Linked DNA regions of Homo sapiens: region 2 is linked to region 1. The links come from fine-mapping of genetic effects on gene expression. A gene starts in region 1. The other region holds a variant in brackets. All regions are shown on one strand. Distances are from middle to middle.

Evidence for each region. PIP is the estimated chance that this variant, and not a neighbour inherited with it, causes the effect.
Region 2: its variant is the best candidate, but not a certain one, in a credible set for the expression of MFSD12 in whole blood (INTERVAL, PIP 0.52).

Annotation. Positions count from the first base shown.
Region 1 is chr19:3,554,002-3,569,750 of GRCh38, forward strand. It overlaps MFSD12 (major facilitator superfamily domain containing 12), which reads right to left and starts at 3,585. Exons shown (of 10, transcript NM_174983.5): 1 at 3,105-3,585. The coding sequence starts at 3,402. RefSeq lists silencers at 3,011-3,180, 3,361-3,430, 3,471-4,020 and an enhancer at 4,130-4,424.
Region 2 is chr19:3,530,998-3,538,997 of GRCh38, forward strand. FZR1 (fizzy and cell division cycle 20 related 1) reads left to right here. Exons shown (of 14, transcript NM_016263.4): 9 at 717-819; 10 at 914-1,098; 11 at 1,420-1,653; 12 at 2,297-2,401; 13 at 3,424-3,516; 14 at 3,798-7,337. The coding sequence ends at 3,839. It also overlaps a transcript of MFSD12 not described here. Among named protein-coding and RNA genes, the nearest start is that of TEKTIP1, 4.2 kb to the right of the region's middle. The variant C/T (reference allele first, on the strand shown) is at 4,389.

The sequences.
Region 1 (15,749 bases):
AACCCAGGAGGTTGAGGTTGCAGTGAGCTGAGATCACGCCACTGCCTTCCAGCCCGGGTGACAAAGCAAGACTCCGTCTCAAAAATAAAAAATAAAAATAAATAAAAAATTAAAAAAAGAAGAGAAAGAAGGGTAGTGAAAGTTCCTGCCCATGGCCAGGCGTGGTTGCTCACACCTGTAATCCCAGCACTGTGGGGGGCTGAGACAGGCAGATCACTTGAGGTCAGCGGTTCAAGCCCAGCCTGGACAATATGGTGAAACCTTGCCTCTACTAAAAATTTAAAAATTAGCCGGCTTTGGTGGCACGTGCCTGTAATCCCAGCTACTCAGGAGGCTGACGCACGAGAATCCTTTGAACTCAGGAGGCGAAGGTTGCAGTGAGCCGAGATCCCGCTACTGCACTCCAGCCTGAGCGACAGAGTGAGACTCTGTCTCAACAACAACAAAACAAAAAAAAAAAAAAAAGAAAGAAAGTTCCTGCCTCACAGGCTGCTGTGAGGATAGAGTTCATGTGTGGCACCAGCAAAAGCTCCGTCTATTCTGAACCACTTCCTGCTTCCGCAGCTTCAAAGTGAGGACTGTTCCTACCTTTTCCACAGCTGTTTCTGCTACTTGGAATGCGCCCCTCCACACACTGCTACCCATCCGTCAAAACCTCAAAGTTAATGTCCTTCCTTCTGAAGCCCATTTGTGCCATCTGCCCACTCACAGGAGTGTTTGTGTCTGATTCTGAGGGTCGTCTCGGGATTGTGGGGGAGCTCCCCAGGACTTGTTAAAGGGCAAAGTGAGTCCTTAGCCACCAGCCCCAGACTTGGGGGTGAAATACAGAAGTGGGTGCCATTGCCAGGGTAACCTTCACTCAAGTCACCTGCTCAGGCATCAAGAGCGGCTGCCTGGGCTTCTGCTCCCAACAGACCCTCCTGACCCTCCAGGCCCACCCAGGTGGCCCCCACCTCTCAGCTCCCAGGGCAGGTGCCCTCCCCGAGGCGGGGAAGAGGGGTGACGGTGGACGCCTTGGTGTCCGGTTGGACCACCTGGTTCCCTGAGGTCTGCTTTGGAAAAACATAAAGCCTTCGGTTGCTGTTTCTGTTTGTTTTCTTGTTTTGGTTTGTTGTTGTTGTTTTTTGTTTTTTTAGACAGACTCTCGCTGTGTCTGGAGTGCAGTGGCGCGATCTTGGCTGACTACAGCCTCTGCCTCCCGGGTTCAAACGATTCTCCCACCTCAGCCTCCCAAGTAGCTGGGATTACAGGCGTGCGCCACCACGCTCGGCTAATTTTTGTACTTTAGTAGAGACGGGGTTTTGCCATGTTGGCCAGGTTGGTCTCAAACTCCTGACCTCAGGTGAGGAGGCCTCCCAAAGTGCTGGGATGACAGGGGTGAGCCACCGTGCCCGGCCCGCCCAGAAATTATCTTACGCGACTGTCAAAGAGCTTATCCAACTATTATGATCAAAGAGGCATTTGGGGCCCTGGGCTCCGCTCAGCAACCAATCCCAACGTAACCACAAAGGAAGGGACAGCCGGTCCCCTCCCTGTCTGCCGCCGCCTCAGGTACCCCAGGAATAGCCTGGACATAGGAAACATGAAACTCCAGTCCCCAAGCTGTGCCTGCTGCGGAGCCTGCCACCCTCAGACCACTGGAGATCCACTGCCTCTTGCAAAAAATGTCATCACCCAGATCCTGGGTCCAACCACCCATCCCAGTCATTGTTCCCAAGGGTGAGGAGGCACCCGCCTGCCCCTCCTGCCACCTGGAATTCCAAGAACTGAGCAGGATTCCTGGCCCTGCCTGCTGAAATGCCACATGTGTCCCAAATGCCAGGACGCAGCCGGCACTTCTGTGAGGGCAAGAAGAGCAGGGAAGGAGGCCGGCTAATCTTCAGGCCCAGGGTCCGGGAGGGGAGAGGAGGGCCGCTGGGAGGCAGCCCTGCAGTCTTATCGATGGGCACTGGGGCAGGGTGACCCAGCCCATGACGCCAGCCTCCTGCCCTCCCAACAGCCCTCTCTAATCAGGGCAGCTCCCCCAGACCTAGGGGGTCCCTGACCCTGGCCAGACAGATAGAGGCAATGCAAGAACAGGGCAGAGACCCCTGACCCTCCAGTCCCACCCAGGCGGCTCCCAACTCTCAACTCCCGGAGCAGCACCCTCAAACTGCTGACGCACCAGGTTGCCCTGGCAGAACACACAGAGAGAGAGGAGGCTCTAGGGGGCCTGACTGTCCCTCAGCCATAGCTGTCCCAGTTGGTCACCCTAATAGACGAGCTCAGGCTAGACAGACTGACAAAGGAGGCGCTGAGCAGTCACCACCAACCCTCCAGAGGGTTCAGGGTGGCCCGGGGGCTCAGACAAACAAAGGCATTCCCACTAGAAAGTCATGTAGTCAGATGGTGAGGGCCCCGCAGGTCAGACAGCAGCTCTGAGGCAGACAGGGGAGGCTGGACCAAGGGACAGACAGAGGGGATACGGGGCAGTTAAACAGACAGATGGGGGAGGCTCATGGCTCAGGCAGATAGAGAAGCCCTGCACAGTTGGACAGATGGGGGAGGCACTGCACAGTCAGACAGATGGGGGAGGCACAGCACAGTCAGACGGGGGAGGCTCAGGCCATGGGGCAGAAAGACGGGGGATGCTGGATGGTGGGACAGGCAGGGGAGGCTCAGGAGTGACACCACAGAGGGGCCACTGGGTAGTCAGACAGACGGGGGAGGCTCAGGCCACGGAACAGCCAGAGGGGTGAAAACTCAGCTCATGGGGCAGACAAACAGGGGAGACTTAGGTCCCAGGCAGGCAGAGAGAGGGGGCTGGGTGGTGGGACTGATGGAGGAAGCTCAGGCCATGGGCACAGACAGACAGACAGGGGAGGTTCGGGCCAGGGGACAGACAGAGGGGTGAAAACTCAGCTCATAGGGCAGACAGATACATAGGGGAGGTTAAGGCCGTGGACAGACAGTGCAGGGAAGCTCGGGCCACGGGACAGACAGACCGAGGGGAGACTCCGATCCTGAGGCAGGCAGACGGCGGGTGGTGAGTCAGAGGGAGGAGGCGCCCGGGTCGCGGAGTCTCGGAGGGGCTGCCCGACAGGTGGCGGGGCCGGGACGCTTACCGACCAGGTGCCAGGCCTTGCGCGGGCCGTAGCGGGCGCAGCAGCTGGCGGCGCGGTCGGCCTCGTAGCCCACGAGCGGTGTGCACAGCCCGTCGGCCACCTGGCCCAGCAGCAGCAGCAGCCCCGCGCCGCGGGAGCTGTAGGCGCGCACCGAGTGCAGGTAGAGCAGCAGGTAGGTGAACCACATGGACGCGCACAGGTCGTTGAGGAAGTGGCCCACGGCGTAGCTCAGCCGCGCCACCAGGGACAGCGGCCGCGGGGACGGCGCCGCTCCGGCCGCTGGGGGTCCCGGGCCCATCGCGGCGCCGGGCCCGCGCCCCCCACCCCCGGGCTCCGCGGAGGGTACCCTGGCCAGGCCTTCTTGGGTGCCGTGGGGGCAGGCGCCGGGGACCCCCACCACGCGCCGGGCACCCCGCGTCCCGCTCTCTTACGGCCGCGCCCTCACCCACGTCCGCCGCGTCCGCCCCACGCTCGACTCTGCAGCCGCCGGGCCCCAGAGCCGGGCGACTGCGCCGGGCGGGGCAGGGCGGGGAGGTTCCGGTGCCTGAGCCAATCGGAGCCGCGCCCCGGGGAACCGCAGCCAATCGCCAAGGAGAGAGGAGAGGGGCGTGGCCGCAGGGCTCGTTCCGCCTCTACGACGGGCGCCCACGCGGTCCTAGCGCCCGCCGGGTATGAGGGCGAACCCCGAGCGCGCCGCAGGAGTGGCCGGCACCCCCATAGACTGGGGAAGGAAATGGACCAGAGGGCACCGCCGGCTCCCACCCAGACCCGGCCTCCAGGCCCGCACCACCCCAGTCCACCCGGAGCTGGACAGCCCACTGCGGGCCGGGGTGGAGCGAGTGGGACGGGCTCTGGATTTGGGGTTGGGGGGAGGTCTGAGCCCGAGCTGGCCTCGGGGTCCGCTGACTCCCCGGCCTAGAGAGACGCGATCGGGCGCGGAGAGGACGCAACAACACTAATTAATTGGTTACTAACGGTAATGATGGGGGTAATCAACATAATAGTACCAGCTGGCCTTTAACGAGCGTTGCCTGCAAAGAGCCCCACGTGGTGACGCAAATTTCACTCTCATTTTACAGGCGAGGAACAGAGTTGCCCGAGGCTCGCAGTGAGTCAGGCGTCTGTGACTCCCAGGCCTGTGCGCGCGACCCTCCCCGTCCAACCAACGTCCTCCCACAAACGGGTCACCGGACTGAGGGTTTCAAGTTCCTCCAGGGGGTGTGTGCGGTTCCCCCTAACTCAGGCCCTACTCCTTCCAGCAGCATTTTCTCTTCTTTCCTCTTTTTATTTATTTCAGAAACAGGGTCTTGAGACGGGCGCGGTGACTCACGCCTGTAATCCCAGCACTTTGGGAGGCCGAGGCGGGCGGATCACCTGAGGTCAGGAGTTTGAGACCAGCCTGGCCAACAAGGTGAAACCCGTCTCTATTAAAAATACAAAAATTAGCCGAGCGTGGTGACAGGTGCCTGTAATCCCAGCTACTTTGGAGGCTGAGGCAGGAGAATCGCTTGACCCAGGAGGCAGAGGTTGCAGTGAGCCAAGACCGCGCCATTGCACTCCAGCCTGGATAACAAGAGTGAAACGCCGCCTCAAAAAAGAAAGAAAGAAAGAAAGAAACGGTCTTGCTCTGTGGCCCAGGCTGCAGTGCATTGGTGCAATCATGGCTCACTACAGCCTCAATCTTCAGGGCTCAAGTAATCCTCCTGTCTCAGCCTCCCAGGTAGCTGGGACTACAGGCACGCATCACCACATGTGGCTAACTTTTGTATTTTTAATTTTGGAGAGACAGGGTCTCACTATGATGCTTAGGTTGACCTCAAACTCCTGGTCTCAAGCAAGCCTCCCACCCTGGCCTCCAGAAGCTCTGGGATTACAAACATGAGCCTCTGCATCGGGCGGGTCTCCAGCAGTTTTCTTTCTTTCTTTCTCTCTCTCTCTCTCTTTTTGAGATGGAGTCTCCGTCTGTCACCCAGGCTGGAGTGCTGTGTTGCAATCTCAGCTCACTGCAGCCTCTGCCTCCCGAGTTCCAGCGATTCTCCTGCCTCAGCCTCCCGAGTAGCTGGGACTACGAGCACCCACCACCACGCCCAGCTAATTTTTGTATTTTTAGTAGAGACGGGGTTTCCCCATATTGGCCAGGCTGGTCTCAAACTCCTGAACTGAAGTGACCCACCCGCCTTGGCCTCCCAAAGTGTTGGGATTACAGTCACGAGCCACCGCGCCCGGCCTACAGCAGTATATTTGGCCTTGCAGTCTGCAGTGAGGTATGATTGCACCACTGCACTCCAACCTGGGCAACAGCAAGACCCCAGCTCTAAAACAAAACAAAACAAAACAAAAGGTCCTTGCAGTATGGAAGGAGAATCGTTGGATCCAGACTTGGTTCCACTGATTCTCTGCTGCTCCACTTGGGACAAGTCTTTTTTTTTTTGAGACGGAGTCTGGCTCTGTCGCCCAGGCTGGAGTGCGGTGGCACGATCTCAGAACACTGCAACCTCCGCCTCCTGGGTTCAAGAGATTCTCCTTCCTCAGCCTGCTGAGTAGCTGGGATTACAGGTGCCCGCCAACACGCCCGGCTAATTTTTGTAATTTTATTTTTATTTTATTTTTTTTTTTTTTTGAGACGGAGTCTGGCTCTCTCGCCCAGGCTGGAGTGCCCTGGCGCGATCTCAACTCACTGCAAGCTCCACCTCCCGGGTTCACGCCATTCTCCTGCCTCAGCCTCCGGAGCAGTTGGGACTACAGGCGCCCGCCATCGTGCCCGGCTAATTTTTTGTATTCTTAGTAGAGACGGGGGTTTCACCGTGTGAGCCAGGATGGTCTCGATCTCCTGACCTTGTGATCTGCCCGCCTCGGCCTCCCAAAGTGCCGGGATTACAGGCGTGAGCCACTGCGCCCAGCCTGGGACAAGTCTTTTAACCTCTTGGAGCTTGGGTCTCCCCTGATCTAGAACGGGTACAGGAGTTATATAATTGGCCTGCCATGGTGGCTCATGCCTGTAATCCCAGCACTTTGGGAGGCCGAGGTGAGAGGATTGTTTGATCCCAGGAGTCCAAGACCAGCCTGGGCAATGTGCTGAAACCCTATCTCTATAAAAAATTTTAAAAATTAGGCCAGGTGCGGTGGCTCAAGCCTGTAATCCCAACATTTTAGGAGGCCAAGGTGGGCAGATCACTTGAGCTCAGGAGTTCGAGACCAGCCTGCCCAACATGGTGAAAACCCATCTCTACTAAAAATACAAAAATAGCTGGGCGTGGTGGCTGTGCCTGTAATCCCAGCTACTTGGGAGGCTGAGGCAGGAGAATCTCTTGAACCTGGGAGGGCTGAGGTTGCAGTGAGCTGAGATCGCACCACTGCACTCCAGCCTGGGCGACAGAGCGAAGATCCGTCTCAAAAACCAGAACAAAACAAAACCCAAGGCTCAAACAGCCAAGGGGTCCACGGCCCCGGCTGCCCACGGTGATGCAGGTCACACACTGTTTTATGAAAACTAGACTGAAAATGGGCGGGAGGGGTAAAAGAGGTCAAGACACAGAACCTAGAAAGGAAGGAGGAGAGATAAGGGGCAGACGACTCGGGGAGATAAAGGGTTGAGGAGAGATAAGAACCTCAATTCCTTCCTCTCTGTTTGGCACGTTCCCACTTAGAGTCCTCCTGGCACGTTCCCCTTTAGAGTCCTCTGAGGGAAATGAAAGATGACTTTTTGAAATATTAGCCTAGGGACCAGGGATCCTGGCTCCCGCCTGTAATCCCAGCACTTTGGGAGGCCAAGGTGAAGGGGTCACTTGAGGTCAGCAGTTCGAGACCAGCCTGGCCAACATGGTGAGACCCCCGTCTCTACTAAAAATACAAAAATTGGGCCAGGCGCGGTGGCTCACGCCTGTAATCCCAGCGCTTTGGGAGGCCAAGGCGGGTGGATCACGAGGTCAGGAGTTCGAAACCAGCCTGGCCACGATGGTGAAACCCTGTCTCTACTAAAAATACAAAAATTAGCTGGGCGTGGTGGCGGGCGCAGATAATCCCAGCTACTCGGGAGGCTGAGGCAGGAGAACGGCTTGAATCCGGGAGGTGGAGGTTGCAGTGAGCTGAGATCGTGCCGCTGCACTCTAGCCTGGGGGACAGACCAAGACCCCATCTCAAAAAAAAAAAAAAATTACAGTAATTAGCCAGGCGTGGTGGTGGGTGCCTGTAACCCAGCTACTCCGGAGGCTGAGGCAGGAGAATCGCTTGAACCCAGAAAGTGGAGGTTGCAGTGAGCCAAGATCGCGCCACTGCACTCCAGCCTGGGCGACGGAGGAAGACCCTGTCTCAACAACAACAACAAAATTAGCCAGGTGTGGTGGTGCACACCTGGAGTCCTGGCTACTCCGGAGGTTGCTGTGGGAGGATCACTGAAGCCCAGGAAACGAAGGCTGCAGTGAGCTATGATCGCACCACTGTGCTCCAGCCTGGGTGACACAGTGAGACTCAGTCTCAAAACAAAAACAAAAAAACTAATGTTTTTCCCATTCCTCATCTCCTTTCATCCCACAAGATCCCTAGGAGGTCTTACACCACTTCATGCTCTATTATTTTATTTTATTATTAATTTTTATTTTTAGAGACAGGGTCTTGCTCTGTCACCTAGGCTGGAGTGCAGTGGTGTGACCACAGCTCACTGTAGCCTTGGCCTCCCGGGCTGAAGAGATCCTCCTGCCTCAGCCTCTTGAGTAGCTGGGACTACAGGTGCCTGCCACCACACCTGGCTAATTTTTTCAGAGATGGAAGTCTTGCTATGTTGCCCTGACTGGTCCCAAAGAGATGGGATTACAGACGTGAGGCACAGTGTGCAGCCTTCATGACCCCCTCCACTGCCTTTTCTTGTTTTTTTTGAGATGGAGTCTCACTTTGTCGCCAGGCTGGCGTGCAATGGTACGATCTCGGCTCACTGCAACCTCCACCTCCCGGGTTCAAGCGATTCTCCTGCCTCAGCCTCCCGAGTAGCTGGGATTACAGGCGCCCGCCACCACGCCCAGCTTATTTTTGTATTTGTAGTAGAGACGGGATTTCACCATCTTGGCCAGGCTGGTCTCAAACTCCTGACTTCAGGTGACCCGCCCGCCTCGGCCTCCCAAAGTGCTGGGATTACAGGTGCGAGCCACTGCGCCCAGCCCTTCATGCCTCTTTTACAGATAAGGAAACTGAGTTTCACAAAGACGGGCATGGGCATGGGACTGTGGCGGGCATGGGACTAACAAGAGGCAGATGTGGGATTTGAACTCAGCTCCACGTGACCTCTTTATGTGCTGGCTGCGGAATGCCACCTGAGTGTGGAGGAACAGGTGCCTCACTGTCCACTGCTTTTTCAGCCTCCTTTGTAGGTCGAGAATCAGGCACAATCCCGCCTCCCTTTGGAGAAGATCCAGCGGAGGAGGCAGGGTGTGGTTAAAGCGCCAACACATCTCTGCATTCTTGTCCTTTTGCTGTTGTGGTGGTTGTTGTTTGAGACTGAGTCTTGCTCTGTCGCCCAGGCTGGGGTGGAGTAGCACGATCTCGGCTCACCGCAACCTCCACCTCCCGGGTTCAAGCGATTCTCCTGCCTCAGCCTCCCAAGTAACTGGGCTTACAGGCACCTGCCACCACGCTCGGCTAATTTTTTGTATTTTTTAGTAGAGACGGGGTTTCGCCATGTTGCTGTTTCGCCATGTTGTGGGTCGGTTCTCGAAATTCCTGACCTCCCAAAGTGCTGAGATCACAGGCATGAATCACCATACCCAACGTAGTTTTTTTGTTTTTGTTTTTGAAGACAGAGTCTTGCTTTGTCACCTAGGCTGGAGTGCAATGGCGCAGTCTCCGCTCACTGCAACCTCTGCCTCCTGGGTTCAAGCAGTTCTGTATCAGCCTCCCGAGTAGCTGGGACTACAGGCGAGCGCCACCACCCCCAGATAATTTTTGTATATTTAGTAGAGATGGTTTTCACCATGTTGGCCAGGCTGCTTTCGAACTCCTGACCTCAAGTGATCCGCCTGCCACAGCCTCCCAAAGTGCTGGGATTACAGGCGTGAGCCACCGCGCCTGGCCACCCAAAGTATTTTTGTTTGTTTGTTTGTGACGGAGTCTCGCCTGTCGCCCAGGCTGGAGTGCAGTGGCGCCATCTCCACTCACTGCAAGCTCCACCTCCCAGGTTCACGCCATTCTCCTGCCTCAGCCTCCTGAGTAGCTGGGACTACGGGCGCCCACGACCACGCCCGGCTAATTTTTTGTATTTTTAGTAGAGATGGGGTTTCACTGTGTTAGCCAGGAGGGTCTCGATCTCCTGACCTCATGATCCCCCTGCCTCGGCCTCCCAAAGTGCTGGGATTACAGGTGTGAGGCACTGCGCCTGGCCACCCAAAGTATTTTTAAATTTTTTGTAGAGATGAGGCCTCATCATTTTGCCTAGGCTGGTCCCGACCACCTGGCTTCAAGTGGTCCTCCCGGCTCAGCCTCCCAGAGTGTTGGGATTATAGGCATGAGCCTCGGCACCTGGCCTCTGTTTTTGTCCCTTTGAAGCCAGCTAATATTTCCTAGCCCTGACTTTGTGGGGTGAGCAGGAACTAGGTCTGACCTCTTGCTGAGGAGCCCCAAAGATTCTGAAGCCCCTGCTTTTGAGGGGAGACAGGGATGACCCCTCCCAGTTCCCCTCATCAGGGACAGGACTGGAGGAGTCAGACCAAGAAGGGCGGTTACAAGGTAGGTGAGGAGTTGGGACATTACCCTGAGGTCACTAGGGAGCCATGGTAGGGGTTAGAGGGAGGGTGGGACTGAGTCAGATTAAAAAGTCCAGTGGGAGATGAGGAAGGGCTTCTTCCAAATGAAGGCCTCAGCTGCGTGCGTGGGGAAGCCACAGGAGAGGACATGTGCCCCAACAAGAGTGGGGGTTGGACGTGAGGGTAAAGATCAGAGAAGGCCCTGTCTAGAGATGTCAGGAAGGCATGATGAAAGCTCAGGCCCTCGGGGTAGGACAGAGGAGTCAGGAGAGATCCTCACAGTCTGATGTCCCCAGCCCATCACCAGCAGCCCCCTGACGCCAAGCCTGCGTTCCCCCTCCCCTGGCCGGACATCGGATGTCCTGATGGCCGCAGTCCAGCCTCGGGGTGGGGTGGGGAATGTCAAGTACTAGAGGCTTCCTTGATCTTCTGTGACCCAGGCCTGGGGTGACAGAGGTGGGGGGGTGGGCAGTGAGGGTTCCTGAGGCTGCACTGAAACTTCCTTATATCTGAGGGTGGCCACGGTGGAGGCGGGGGAGCAGGGGAGCAAAGCCAGGATCAAATCTGGGCAGTCCCTGACAAGCCACCAAGCTTCAGTTGCCCTCTCTGTAAAATGGGGGTGAGGTGAGAGTAACCGAACCAAACAGAATACCAGGAGGCTTCAACCACACAACTTGGCCGGGCGCGGTGGCTCACACCTGTAATCCCAGCACTTAGGGAGGCCGAGGCAGGTGGGTCACCTGAGATGAGGAGTCTGAGACCATCCTCGCCAATATGGTGAAACCTCATCTCTACTAAAAATACAAAAAATTATCTAGGCCTGGTGGTGCATGCCTGTAATCCCAGCTACTCGGGAGGCTGAGGCAGGAGAATCACTTGAGCCCGGGAGGCAGAGGTTGCAGTGAGCCGAGGTCTGGCCATTGCACTCCAGCCTCGGCGACAGAGTGAGACTCCATCTCAAAAAAAACATTAGCTGGGCATGGTGGTGGCCACCTATAATCCCAGCTACTCGGGAGGCTGAGGCAGGAGAATTGCTTGAACCTGGGAGGCAGAGGTTGTGGTGACCTGAGATCGCGCCATTGCACTCCAGCCTGGGCGACAGAGTGAGACCCAGTCTCAAAAAAAAAAAAAAAAAAAGGATGGGGAGGGAGGGAAGGAAGGACGAACTCTTTTTTTTTTTTTTTTTTTTTTTGAGACGGAGTCTTGCTCTATTGCCCAGGATGGAATGCAGTGGCACGATCTCAGCTCACCACAACCTCCTCCTCCCAGGTTCAAGCGATTCTCCTGTCTCAGCCTCCTGAGTAGCTGGGATTACAGGTGCCTGCCACCACGCCTGGCTAAGTTTTTGTATTTTTAGTAGAGACGGGGGTTTCTCCACGTTGGTCAGGCTGCTCTCTAACTCCTGACCTCATGATCTGCCCGCCTCGGGCTCCCAAAGTGCTGGGATGACAGGCGTGAGTCACTGCGCCCGGCCTCTTCAGTCAGTCTTTGCGTGACTCAGTCTTTGCCAGGACCCTCCTGGCCTCAGGTCCTGTTCAGTATCTGGTCTACCATTGCCAGAAGGAGCGCATTCTGTGAGTCTTGTGATTTACGTTTTAACGTTGATGCTGGTCAGTCCTTGCGCTGAGAGCAAAACGGGGAGGAGCTGTAACGAAGCGCGGTGACCTCCTGGCACGGCAGGGCCTGGAACTCGGAGCTTTTTGTTGTTGTGTTGTGTTTTGAGACGGAGAGTCGCTCTGTCGCCCAGGCAGGAGTGCACCGGTGCGATCTCAGCTCACTGCAACCTCCGCCTCCTGGGTTCAAGCAGTTCTCCTGCCTCAGCCTCCCGAGTAGCTGGGAGTATAGGCGTGTGCCACCACATCCGGCTAAGTTTTTTGTCTTTTTAGTGGAGATGGGGTTTCGCCATGTTGGCCAGGCTGGTCTCGAACCCCTGACCTCAGGTGATCCGCCCGCCTCGGCCTCCCGAAGTGCTGGGATTCCAGGCGTAAGCCACTGTGCCTGACCAACCTCGGTACTCCTGACGTTTGGGACATCATTTTTTGTGGTGGGGGCCGTGTAGGATCTCTGGCCTCAACCGTGTAGATGCCAGTAGCACCCCCCTAGTCCGACAATGAAAAATCTCTCTAGACATTACTAGGTATTTCCTGGCGTGACAGAGTTGGCCCCGGATGAGAACCACTGAGCTAGAGCGTTTTCTGTAACAGGTGTTTGATTCTCCCTGGACAATCCCAGCCAGCAACGTCATAAAGGTAGACAAAGCAATTATCCCACTTAACAGATGGAGAAACTGAGGCACAGAAGTTGAGTAAATTGCCCAAGTCCCACAGTTGAGGCTCAGATTGCTTCCCTGAGTTCCTGAGGGCCCAGCAGCAGTGGGGTGCCCCTCCTCAGAGGCCTGAGATCCCTGTCCCACCAGCCCTGTGTTCTGCCAGCCCCGGGGCCAGGGGATGCTAGGGGCAGTAGCTCTCTTTCCGCTTCCCTGTCGCCTTCTCAGCTCTCCAGCATCTGTTTAAGCAATGCCTGTATGAAGTTGCCTCTATAAAAAGCCCCAGGAGGCTTGAGATTGTCCGTGGCCTGGGAGAACCAACCACACCCTGACTCTCCCTGGGTGGTGGAGAAAAGTCCACACATCCATGTTGATTAATATCTATTAAAAATTTAAGGTCAGGCGCGGTGGCTCATGCCTGTAATCCCAGCACTTTGGGAGGCCGAGGCGGGCGGATCGCGAGGTCAGGAGATTGAGACCATCCTGGCTAACACAGTGAAACCCCGTCTCTACTAAAAATACAAAAACTTAGCCGGGTGTGGTGGCGGGCGCCTGTAGTCCCAGCTACCCGGGAGGCTGAGGCAGGAGAATGGCATGAACCCGGGAGACGGAGCTTGCAGTGAGCAGAGATGGCGCCACTGCACTCCAGCCTGGGCGACAGAGAGAGACTCCATCTCAAAAAAAAAAAAAAAAAATTAATGGGGGCATGTAATCCCAGTACTGTGGTACTGTGGTACTGTGGGAGGCTGAGGCAGGAGGATCACGAGGCCAGGAGTTTGAGACCAGCCTGGCCAACATGGCAAAACCTCATCTCCACTAAAAGTACAAAAATTAGTCTCGCATGGCGATGTGTGCCTGTAACCCTGGCTACTCTGAAGGCTGAGGCACGTGAATCACTTGAACACGGGAGGTGGAGGTTGCAGGGAGGTGGAGGTTGCAGGGAGCTGAGACTGAGCCACTGCACTCTAGCCTGGGAGCTGGGCAACAAAGCAAGACCCCATCTGTACGAAAATTAAAATAATCAGCCAGATGTGGTGGTGCATACCTGTGGTCCCAACTGCTCGAGAGGCTGAAGCAGGAGAATCACTTGAGCCCAGGAGTTCGAGGTTGCAGTGAGCTGAGATCCGATGACTACACTCCAGCCTGGGTGACACAGCGAGACACCATGTCTCAAAAAATAATAATAGTAAAAAATACCCTTTATCTGAGCGATATTATTGAGTAAACAGAACTGGTTGCAGTTGAAGCTTACAGCATGAAGGCACTGGTATAATACACAGCAGAATAGGACCTCACATTTGTTTGCTTACTTTTATTATTATTTTTTTTTGTAGAGACAGGGTCTCACTATGTTGTCCAGGCTGGCCTCAAATTCCTGGGTTCAAGCAATCCTCCTGCCTCAGCCTCCCATAGTGCTGGGATTACAGGTGTGAGCTACTGCACCTGGCCAGGACCTCACTTTATTTATTTATTTATTTTTTTGAGACAAAGTCTCGCCATGTCGCCCAGGCTGGAGTGTAGTGGCTCGATCTTGACTCACTGAAACCTCTGCCTCCCAGGTTCAAGCAATTCTTGTGCCGCAGCTTCCTGAGTAGCTGGAGCTACAGGTGTGCACCACCATGCGTGGCTACTTTTTGTATTTTTAGTACAGACAGGGTTTTGCCATGTTGGCCAGGCTGTTCTTGAAATCCTGACCTCAGGTGATCGGCCCACTTTGGCTTCTCAAAGTGCTGAGATTACAGGCGGGAGCCACCACGCCCAGCCTATATTTTTATTTATTTATTTACTATTTTTTGAGAGGGAGTCTCGCTCTGTCACCCAGGCTGGAGTGCAGTGGCACGATCTCAGCTCACTGCAACCTCCGCCTCTAGGTTCAAGTGATTCTCCTGCCTCAGCCTTCTGAGTAGCTGGGACTACAGGCGTGCACCCCCATGCCCAGCTAATTTTTGTGGTTTTACTTTTTTGTAGAATTTTTTTTTTAACTGTGAATACACATTTTTTATTTGGTCATTTTTGCTTACAATTGAAACTCTGGGAATTCAAAATTAACATCCTTGCCCATGAGCTTCTTATAGACACCAGAAAAAGTTTCAACCTTGTGTTCCATATTGTTCTGCTGTGCCTTGTCCAAATGAACCTTTATGAGCCGGCTGCCATCTAGTTTCACGCAGATTCTCTAGAGTTTCAACTGTAAGCAAAAATGACTAAATAAAAAATATATATTCACGTTAAAAAAATTTTTTTTTTTTTTTTGAGACGGAGTCTCGCTCTGTCCCAGGCTGGAGTGCCGTGGCGGGATCTCCGCTCACTGCAACCTTTGCCTCCCGTGTTCAAGCTATTCTCCTACCTCAGCCTCCCAAGTAGCTGGGATTACAGGTGCCCGCCACCACGCCCGGCTAATTTTTGTATTTTTAGTAGAGATGGGGTTTCACCATGTTGACCAGGCTGGTCTCGAACTGTGGACCTCGTGATCCTCCCACCTCAGCCTCCCAAAGTGCTGGGATTACAGGTGTGAGCCACCGTGCCTGGCAATTTTTGTGTTTTTAGTAGGGACAGGGTTTCTCCATGTTGGCCAGGCTGGTGTCAAATTCCTGACCTCCAGCGATCCACCCACCTCGGCCTCCCACAGTGCTGGCATTACAGGCGTGAGCCACCGCGCCCAGCCCACGTCTTTATTAGGAATACGCACATGTGTACGTGTGTAGGCATGTGCTGTGGGTGGAGTCATGTCCCCACAGAATGCACAGGTTCCTGTCCTAATCCCCAAGGCCTCAGAATGTGACCGTATTTGGAAAAAGGTCATTGCAGATATAATGAGTTAAGATGACATCATTAGGGTGGGCCGTGACGCAGTATGACTGCTGTCCTTATCAAAAGAGGAAATTTGGGTGCAGACACGCACATAGGGAGAACCCCACATGAAGATGCAGGCAGACATCGGGGTGTCACTCCTACAAGACAAGAAAAGCCCAGGATTGCTGGCCAATGCCAGAAACTGGGAGACGCCAGGGACAGATTCTCTCCCCGCCCTCAGAAGGCCCCAGCCCTACCCACACCTTCCTCTTGGACTTCTGGCCTCCAGAACTGTGAAACAATAAATTTCTCTTGTTTAAGCCCCTCAGTTTGTCGTAATTATTACCTAGCAAACCAATGCAGTGTGGTGTGCGTGTGTGTGTGTGTGTGTGTGTGTGTGTGTGTGAGTGTGGCTAGGAAAAATTTTAAAAAGAGATGCGGCCGGGTACAGTGGCTCACGCCTGTAATCTCAGCACTTTGGGAGGCCAAGGTGGGCGGATCATCTGAGGTCAGGAGTTCAAGACCTGCCTGGCCAACATGGCAAAACCCCGTCTCTACTAAAAATACAAACATTAGCTGGGTTTGGTGGCACGTGCCTGTAATCCCGGCTACTCAGGAGGCTGAGGCAGGAGAATCACTTGAACCTGGGAGGCGGAGGTTGCAGTGAGCAAAGATCACGCCACTGCACTCCAGCCTGGGCGAATGAAACTCTATCTCAAAAAAAAAAAAAAGAAAAAAAAAAGGCCTGGCACAGTGGCTCACGACTGTAATCCCAGCACTTTGGGAGGCCAAGGCGGGTGGATCACAATGTCAGGAGATCGAGACCATCCTGGCTAACACGGTGAAACCCCATCTCTA
Region 2 (8,000 bases), 27 kb before region 1:
CCGGCCTTAGTGTGGTCCTGGTAGAGGGAGTAACAGGGATGAGCAGGCACCCACCAGGCCCCTAGAAAGGATGGCAGGTCCAGTGGGGAAATAACGCCCCAGTTCCTTCCATGGGACCTGCCCACCTGGGACTCGCTCCCCTGGAGTTCCATTTTCCACTCAGGGTCGAGTGGGCTTTAGTTCCATTTTAGATTATGATGAAAACATCTCAGCAGCAGCTTTGAAGCATATCATGGGGAGGGTCTGTGCCCCTCACCCAGAGCTGCCCAGGGCTGCCCCTAGCACTCGTAACCGCTCACTGTGTCCAGGCGTGTGCGCTCACCCTCCCTCCATCCATCTTAGGTTTTCATGTGCCTCAAAGTCAGTTGCAGACAGCAACGCATGTTGCCCAGCTCCTGGGCCTGTGTGGAACCTGGAGCTCAGTGTCTGCAGTTTCTCCTTCCCTCTGTGTGAAATGTCCATGTGGGAAGGTCCACGTACCGAGTCTTGGCTGGACTCTGAGAAACCCAGGCGCAGTGTGTGCGGGGTGTGCCCGCCACCCCAGCATGCACTGAGGGGGGTTTATGCTTCTTCCGAAGGGACGTGCATTCGAGAGTCGTTAGGGAAACCGTCCCAGAGCCCTGGTGAGGAGAGAGCCTGGCGCGACCAACGCCAGGACGGGCACAGTCCCCGGGCCAGACCTGACACCGGTGCTCTGCCCATGCCTTCCATCCTAGGGGAACCTGGTGGCGGTGGGCACACACAAGGGCTTCGTGCAGATCTGGGACGCAGCCGCAGGGAAGAAGCTGTCCATGTTGGAGGGCCACACGGCACGCGTCGGTGAGGAGCCCGGGTCCCATGGCTGGTGAGCTCCCTGAGGCCCCAGCTCCGCGAGGGCAGGAGAGGCTCACCCCCGCTTCCACCTGGCCTCCAGGGGCGCTGGCCTGGAATGCTGAGCAGCTGTCGTCCGGGAGCCGCGACCGCATGATCCTGCAGAGGGACATCCGCACCCCGCCACTGCAGTCGGAGCGGCGGCTGCAGGGCCACCGGCAGGAGGTGTGCGGGCTCAAGTGGTCCACAGACCACCAGCTCCTCGCCTCGGGGGGCAACGACAACAAGGTACCCCCGCCCAGAGCCTGGGCTTCCCCTTCACCAGAAGCCGCACCCCTCACACTGGCAGGAACGGAAGAGCCTGGGCTGGGGCGGGCGCGGGCGCGGGGCCCACTCCACAGCCATCAGCAGGGCACCAGGCTTGTCCTTCCTGCTCAGCCAGTCCTGCCCTGTGGCACAGGGTGACGAGTGTGTGCCCCCAGGGGTCCTTGAGGGAGCAGCAGGAGGAGTGTGGGGTGGGGTGCCAGGGCAGGTCGTCACACCTGTGAGGACCGGCCTATGGGACCACAGGGCTGGGACAGCCCCGGCCTCACAGCCCCTGTCCCCCAGCTGCTGGTCTGGAATCACTCGAGCCTGAGCCCCGTGCAGCAGTACACGGAGCACCTGGCGGCCGTGAAGGCCATCGCCTGGTCCCCACATCAGCACGGGCTGCTGGCCTCGGGGGGCGGCACAGCTGACCGCTGTATCCGCTTCTGGAACACGCTGACAGGACAACCACTGCAGTGTATCGACACGGGCTCCCAAGTGTGCAATCTGGCCTGGTCCAAGCACGCCAACGAGCTGGTGAGCACGGGCGGCCCGGCCTCCCACCAGGCCTCAGGATGTGCGTCCTGCTGGCCCCTTACCTGCCACCTGAGAGCAGCCTGTGGGGAGATGGGTCAGAGTCGCTCTGAAGGGAGATGGGCGAGGGAGGCCGAGCGGGGAGGCAGGGAGTTGTGGGGGGCAAGGCCCCTGGGCCTCATCAGGGCCTCACCTGGGGCAAGACTTGGGGCCTCTGGGCCCCCATCGCAGCCACACCTGGCGGCTCTGTGAGGAGCCGGGGAGCTCCTATGGCTGCCTCTGCTTAGAGGGGAGGCCCAGGATGAAGCGGGCTCCACTGAGCACCCTGGCCTGCTCCAGCCACTCCGGGCGTGTCACCAGGACAGTCTCGGGGGTGACTTGCAGGTGGGGCAGAGGGGCTGTGGGCCCCGTTTGGGTCCTTGTTGGGCTCCAGCCTTTGGCGGTGGGTGGAGGGGTCCACCTGTGGCCTCCACACCTCCTAGACAGACTCAGGTGGCAGAGCCACATCCCAGCATCCCCTGCTCCTCCTGGGCTGGCTGGCGGCTCTGAGCTCTCACATGGGCTCAGGCGGGTGCATGTGAGGCAGCAGGCATAGCACCCGGCCTCGTTGCCCCTCACCGACCGCAGCGCCCCCTCCGCCCTCCAGGTGAGCACGCACGGCTACTCACAGAACCAGATCCTTGTCTGGAAGTACCCCTCCCTGACCCAGGTGGCCAAGCTGACCGGGCACTCCTACCGCGTGCTGTACCTGGTGAGTTCACGCCAGGCACTTCAAGGTGCCCCGGGATTCTGGACAAACTGCCATGGCCACCCCAGAGCACCCTGTCCTGTGTTCTTAGGGAGGATGGTGTGCAGATCTAAAACCCCGTGGGACCCAGCAGCAGGGGCCGGCAGGGCATCTGGTGCTGGTTGTGTTGCCAGCGTTGGAATGGGCTCTACCGAACTCCCCAGCCCTGCAGGTGCAGGCCCTGTCCTCCTGGAGGACCTTAGCTTCTTCATTTGTTTATTTTCCCCATAAAGAGGGGTGAAGAGGAAAGCCAAAACCAACTCACAGCTGACCACTCAGATGACCCTGTGAACGTCCTACACAGTAACTGTATGCACGTGGCTGGATGGGGGCCAGGAGGCGTCCTTGGCCCCACGTGCCCTCACTTGCCAAGATTTTGTTTCTTCCCTGAAAAACATGTTCTGTGCTTTCATCCGCGCATCTGACAGTCCCTCATCTGTGCAGAGTTGATGAGCCCCTCTTGCAAGGGGGCGTCCTTTGTGTTTTTGCAAAAATGCTCCAACCTTGGCTAGGTGCGGTGGCTCACGCCTGTAATCCCTGCACTTCAGGAAGCCAGGGTGGGAGGATCGCTTGAGCCCAGGAGTTCAAGACCAGCCTGGGCAACATAGCAAGACCCCATCTCTACAAAACTTTTTTTAAATGAGGTGTGGTGGTGTGCACCTGTAGTCCCAGCTACTCAGGAGGCTGAGATGGGAGGATCACCTGAGCCCAGGAGGTCAAGGCTGCAGTAAGCCAGGATTGCCCCACTGCACACTCCAGCCTGGGTGACAGAGCCAGACCCCGTCTTAAAATTAAAAAAAAAAAAAAAAAAAAGGCTCCAACCTTGGTTTCTGCTTGTGGTGGCCCCAGCCTGCCCCTCCCTCCTGGCTCCAGAGTCTGGGGGGCCCAGCCACCCGACACCTTGCTCCCCTCTCCTTCAGTCCCCCAGCACTGTCCCGAGGCACCTAGAGGCCCAGAGACATGGGGTGCTTCCCTCCTGTCCACAGGCAATGTCCCCTGATGGGGAGGCCATCGTCACTGGTGCTGGAGACGAGACCCTGAGGTTCTGGAACGTCTTTAGCAAAACCCGTTCGACAAAGGTAAAGTGGGTCGGTATCAGCGCCACTCGCCCCCGCCCCAGCCTGTCCCAGGGTCGTCCCTGTCCCCACTGTCCTCGGGCGTACCCTCCTCTGGGTTCCCCCACTTCCGAGCTTCCCTCACCTCAAATTCTGGGTCATGTGTCGGGGCAGTGTGGCAGGCCGAGGCTGAACTGGCACCTCCCAGCCCCTCAGGACCAAGCCCCAAAGCCTTGGGGACCCTCCAGGCAGCTTCCTCCCTGGGCCTGCGGCTCAGCGCATCTGCCATCCCCATGTGTCTGCAGGAGTCTGTGTCTGTGCTCAACCTCTTCACCAGGATCCGGTAAACCTGCCGGGCAGGACCGTGCCACACCAGCTGTCCAGAGTCGGAGGACCCCAGCTCCTCAGCTTGCATGGACTCTGCCTTCCCAGCGCTTGTCCCCCGAGGAAGGCGGCTGGGCGGGCGGGGAGCTGGGCCTGGAGGATCCTGGAGTCTCATTAAATGCCTGATTGTGAACCATGTCCACCAGTATCTGGGGTGGGCACGTGGTCGGGGACCCTCAGCAGCAGGGGCTCTGTCTCCCTTCCCAAAGGGCGAGAACCACATTGGACGGTCCCGGCTCAGACCGTCTGTACTCAGAGCGACGGATGCCCCCTGGGACCCTCACTGCCTCCGTCTGTTCATCACCTGCCCACCGGAGCCGCATGCTCTTCCTGGAACTGCCCACGTCTGCACAGAACAGACCACCAGACGCCAGGGCTGATTGGTGGGGGCCTGAGACCCCGGTTGCCCATTCATGGCTGCACCCCACCATGTCAAACCCAAGACCAGCCCCAAGGCCAGACCAAGGCATGTAGGCCTGGGCAGGTGGCTCGGGGCCACTGGCGGAGCCAGC[C/T]TGTGGATCCAAGAGACAGTCCCCACCTGGGCTTCACGGCATCCTTGCAGCCACCTCTGCTGTCACTGCTCGAAGCAGCAGTCTCTCTGGAAGCATCTGTGTCATGGCCATCGCCCGGCGGTCAGTGGGCTTCAGATGGGCCTGTGCATCCTGGCCAAGCGTCACCCTCACACTGGAGGAGGATGTCTGCTCTGGACTTATCACCCCAGGAGAACTGAACCCGGACCTGCTCACTGCCCTGGCTGGAGAGGAGCACAACAGATGCCACGTCTTCGTGCATTCGCCAACACGTGCCCTCACAGGGCCAGCGTCCTCCTTCCCTGCGCAAGACTTGCGTCCCCCATGCCTGCTGGGTGGCTGGGTCCTGTGGAGGCCAGCAGCGGTGTGGCCCCCGCCCCCAGGCTGCCTGTGTCTTCACCTGTCCTGTCCACCAGCGCCAACAGCCGTGGGGAAGCCAAGGAGACCCAAGGGGTCCAGGAGGTGGGCGCCCTCCATCCTTCGAGAAGCTTCCCAGGCTCCTCTGCTTCTCTGTCTCATGCTCCCAGGCTGCACAGCAGGCAGGGAGGGAGGCAAGGCAGGGGAGTGGGGCCTGAGCTGAGCACTGCCCCCTCACCCCCCCACCACCCCTTCCCATTTCATCGGTGGGGACGTGGAGAGGGTGGGGCGGGCTGGGGTTGGAGGGTCCCACCCACCACCCTGCTGTGCTTGGGAACCCCCACTCCCCACTCCCCACATCCCAACATCCTGGTGTCTGTCCCCAGTGGGGTTGGCGTGCATGTGTACATATGTATTTGTGACTTTTCTTTGGATTTGTTTTGTGTTTTTGTTGACTAGTCCTGGAAATGTTTGAGGCTAGACGGGGAGGGGCCAGGACCCACCCACTGCTCCTGGGGGATGAGGTCCTGGTTTTAAAGCCCCGTCATTTCAAGCGGGTCGATCTTCCACATTCACTGGAGAGACTCTCCCCACCTCTGTCTGGGTGGGGCGCGGACCCCTCACTGTGCGCCTGTGCAGGGGGTGCTGGTGCACGTGGCAGTGTGGATTTCCAGTGGTCACGGTCTTACTGTTTCAAGGTTTTTAAATAAGAAAACCAACCCTGCCTTCGCCCATGCCCGCCCCTGCCCGCAGTTGCCAAAGAGCCGCCTTGTCGCTGTGGGCGTCAGGGCTTGGCTGGCTCAGTGCACAACCCACAGTGGCCTTCAGAGGCTCCTCCTGGGACTGGGAACCGCCGCAGGGCCAGGCGGACGGCGTGAGGTTTGTGTTGGGGCTGGTTCTGCCCATGCTAGGGGGTGGGGGAGCTCCCAGGACAGACCAGCCTTGTTTCTCATGTAATGCAGTGACGCTGTCATTAAACACGTGGATTCATGTGTGGCCGGGACTGGCTGGCTCTAGGTCCCCGGCTCGGGTGGGGTCACACGGTCCTGCCCTAGAGTCCCCATCTGGCCCTGGAGCTGCAGAAGCAGCTTCTGAGGGGCTTCCCAGGCCTGCATTTCACAGATGGGGAGCTCAGCCCTCGAAGGCCGCAGAGACGCCTCCCAGGCCCGTCTGCCAGGGCGCCGGCCACAATCCTGCAGGGCCAAGGACTGGACTCCAGGCAAGTCCCTGCGCTCCAGCTGGACGGCCCTGTTCCAGGGAGGAGGTGCTCGGTTGACACCATCAGGGAGGGAGGGTGGGCACTGCTGGGCTGAGTTCACCCCCAGGGCTGGCCAGATGGGGCCAGGAGGGACAGAGCAAGGGGGGTGAAGGCCGTGGTGGGAGGGTCCCATGATGATGGGCCAGGGCTCGTGTAGAAATGGGGGAATTGGTTCCCCATGGCCCAGGACAGCTGAGAGGAGGTGGAGGGGCCCCAGGGGAGTGTACGTCAGGCTTTGCGGGGCACGGGGGCCACTCAGCAGCGCTGGGGCAGGTGCCTCTGCTGTCAGCTCCACCCGACAGGCAGACGAAGGCCAGTGGGGCCATCGCTTCCTGGGGCGACCCTGGCAGTGGTTGGGAGACGCCCAGATGGAGGGGGAGGCTGACCAAGGGCCCCGCAGGGCGGGCTGCAACTTTTCTGTTGATCCTGGAATGTAGCTGGTGCAGTGAGAGGGAAAGAGAATTGAAAAACTCAGGCTGCCATAGGTTCTGCGATGAGAGGTGCAGGAGGCAGGAGCCTGGCCCAGGGGGTGCTGGTGCCTCCCCGGGGTCTGGGCGGAGAGAACAGGAGGAATGGCTGGGAAGTGGCTGAGGGAGCCAGGAGGCCGGGGGGCCGGGGGCTGCAGGGGAGGCTGTGGGGGTCCTGGCAGCCAGGAGGCCCCAGGTGGTTTTGAGGCTCGCTCTTGCGCGGTGCCTGAGAAGAGGGTGAAGGAGCTGGGGCAGGCCCCATCCTGGGCATTGGAGATGATGAAACCGAGCAGACCTGGCCCATGTGGAGCTGGCATGGGGGACACAGCCCAGAGACAGAGAAGCTTATGAGGAAGTGAGGAGGTGGCGTCACAAGGGTGGGGAGGGGGCCTTGGGGAAGGGCGGCCTTGGATCAGAGGCTCACCACAAGCCTGGCATTTCAGCCAGGGCTGGAGAAGGCAGGGACGCCTGGGTGAGAGGCAAAGGGCACAGCCATGCAAAGGCCCTGGGGCAGGACGGCACCTGGTATGCGGGAGGAACAGAGTGAGGAGAGGAGGGCAGGGCGTGCAGGGCCTTGTGGGCCTCAGGGAGGACTTGGGCACCTACGCCGAGGGAGTGGAGCTCCTGGGTGCGTGTCCAGATGGGAAAGGCAGGGTCGTATCTGTGGGGACCTGACAAGGGCAGGGGAAGCGGAGACCAGGGTGCAGGCTCCGCCCCCACCCAAGGCCGGGCCCAGCCAGAGGAGGGGCAGGGCAGGGCAGGAGGTTTCTGGATGTTTGTTGGGTTTGGTTTGGTTTTGTTTTGTTTTGTTTATTGTGGTAAAATACAAAATCTACCGTCTTACAGTGAGGTGGCGTTCAGTACCTTCACCACGCCGTGCAGCCATCCCATCTGATTCCAGAACATTCTCATCACCCAGAAGGCAGCCCTGTCCCCATTATGTCACCTAGTCACCCCCAGGTCCCCCTCCCCAGTCCCGGCACCCACGAATCCTCTCCCTGATTCTGTGGATTGGTCTGTCCTGGACATTTCATAGAAGTGGGATCACAGCGTACCCTTCTGTGTCTGGTGTCTCTCACTGAGCGTGACATCCTCAAGGTGCATCCGCACTGTGGCCTGGGTCAGAGCTTCGCACCTCCTTGTGGCTGAGTCTCGTTCCAGCACGGTGGCGGCGCCGTGCTGATCCCCTCACCTTCACTGGGTGTTCGGTGTTCTCCGCCTCGGGCTGTCACAAATCGTGCTGCTGTGAGCCACTGCGTGCAGGTCTCATCCTGGGTGTATTTTACAAACGGACTGGATGTGAGTGGGTGAGGAGTGAGGAGCTGGGGTGACAGGTGCCTGCGACCCCGGCCAGGCACTGCCTCCTGCGATCGAAGGGGCAGGGGGAGACAGAAGCCCCTCAAGGGGGTGTGGAGATGGAGAAGCCAGACCCCAGGTGGGGGGTGCATAGAGCTGGGGGCTCAGGGCCACGGACCCCACCTGGCAGTGGCCCTGGCCTTGCCCACCCACACT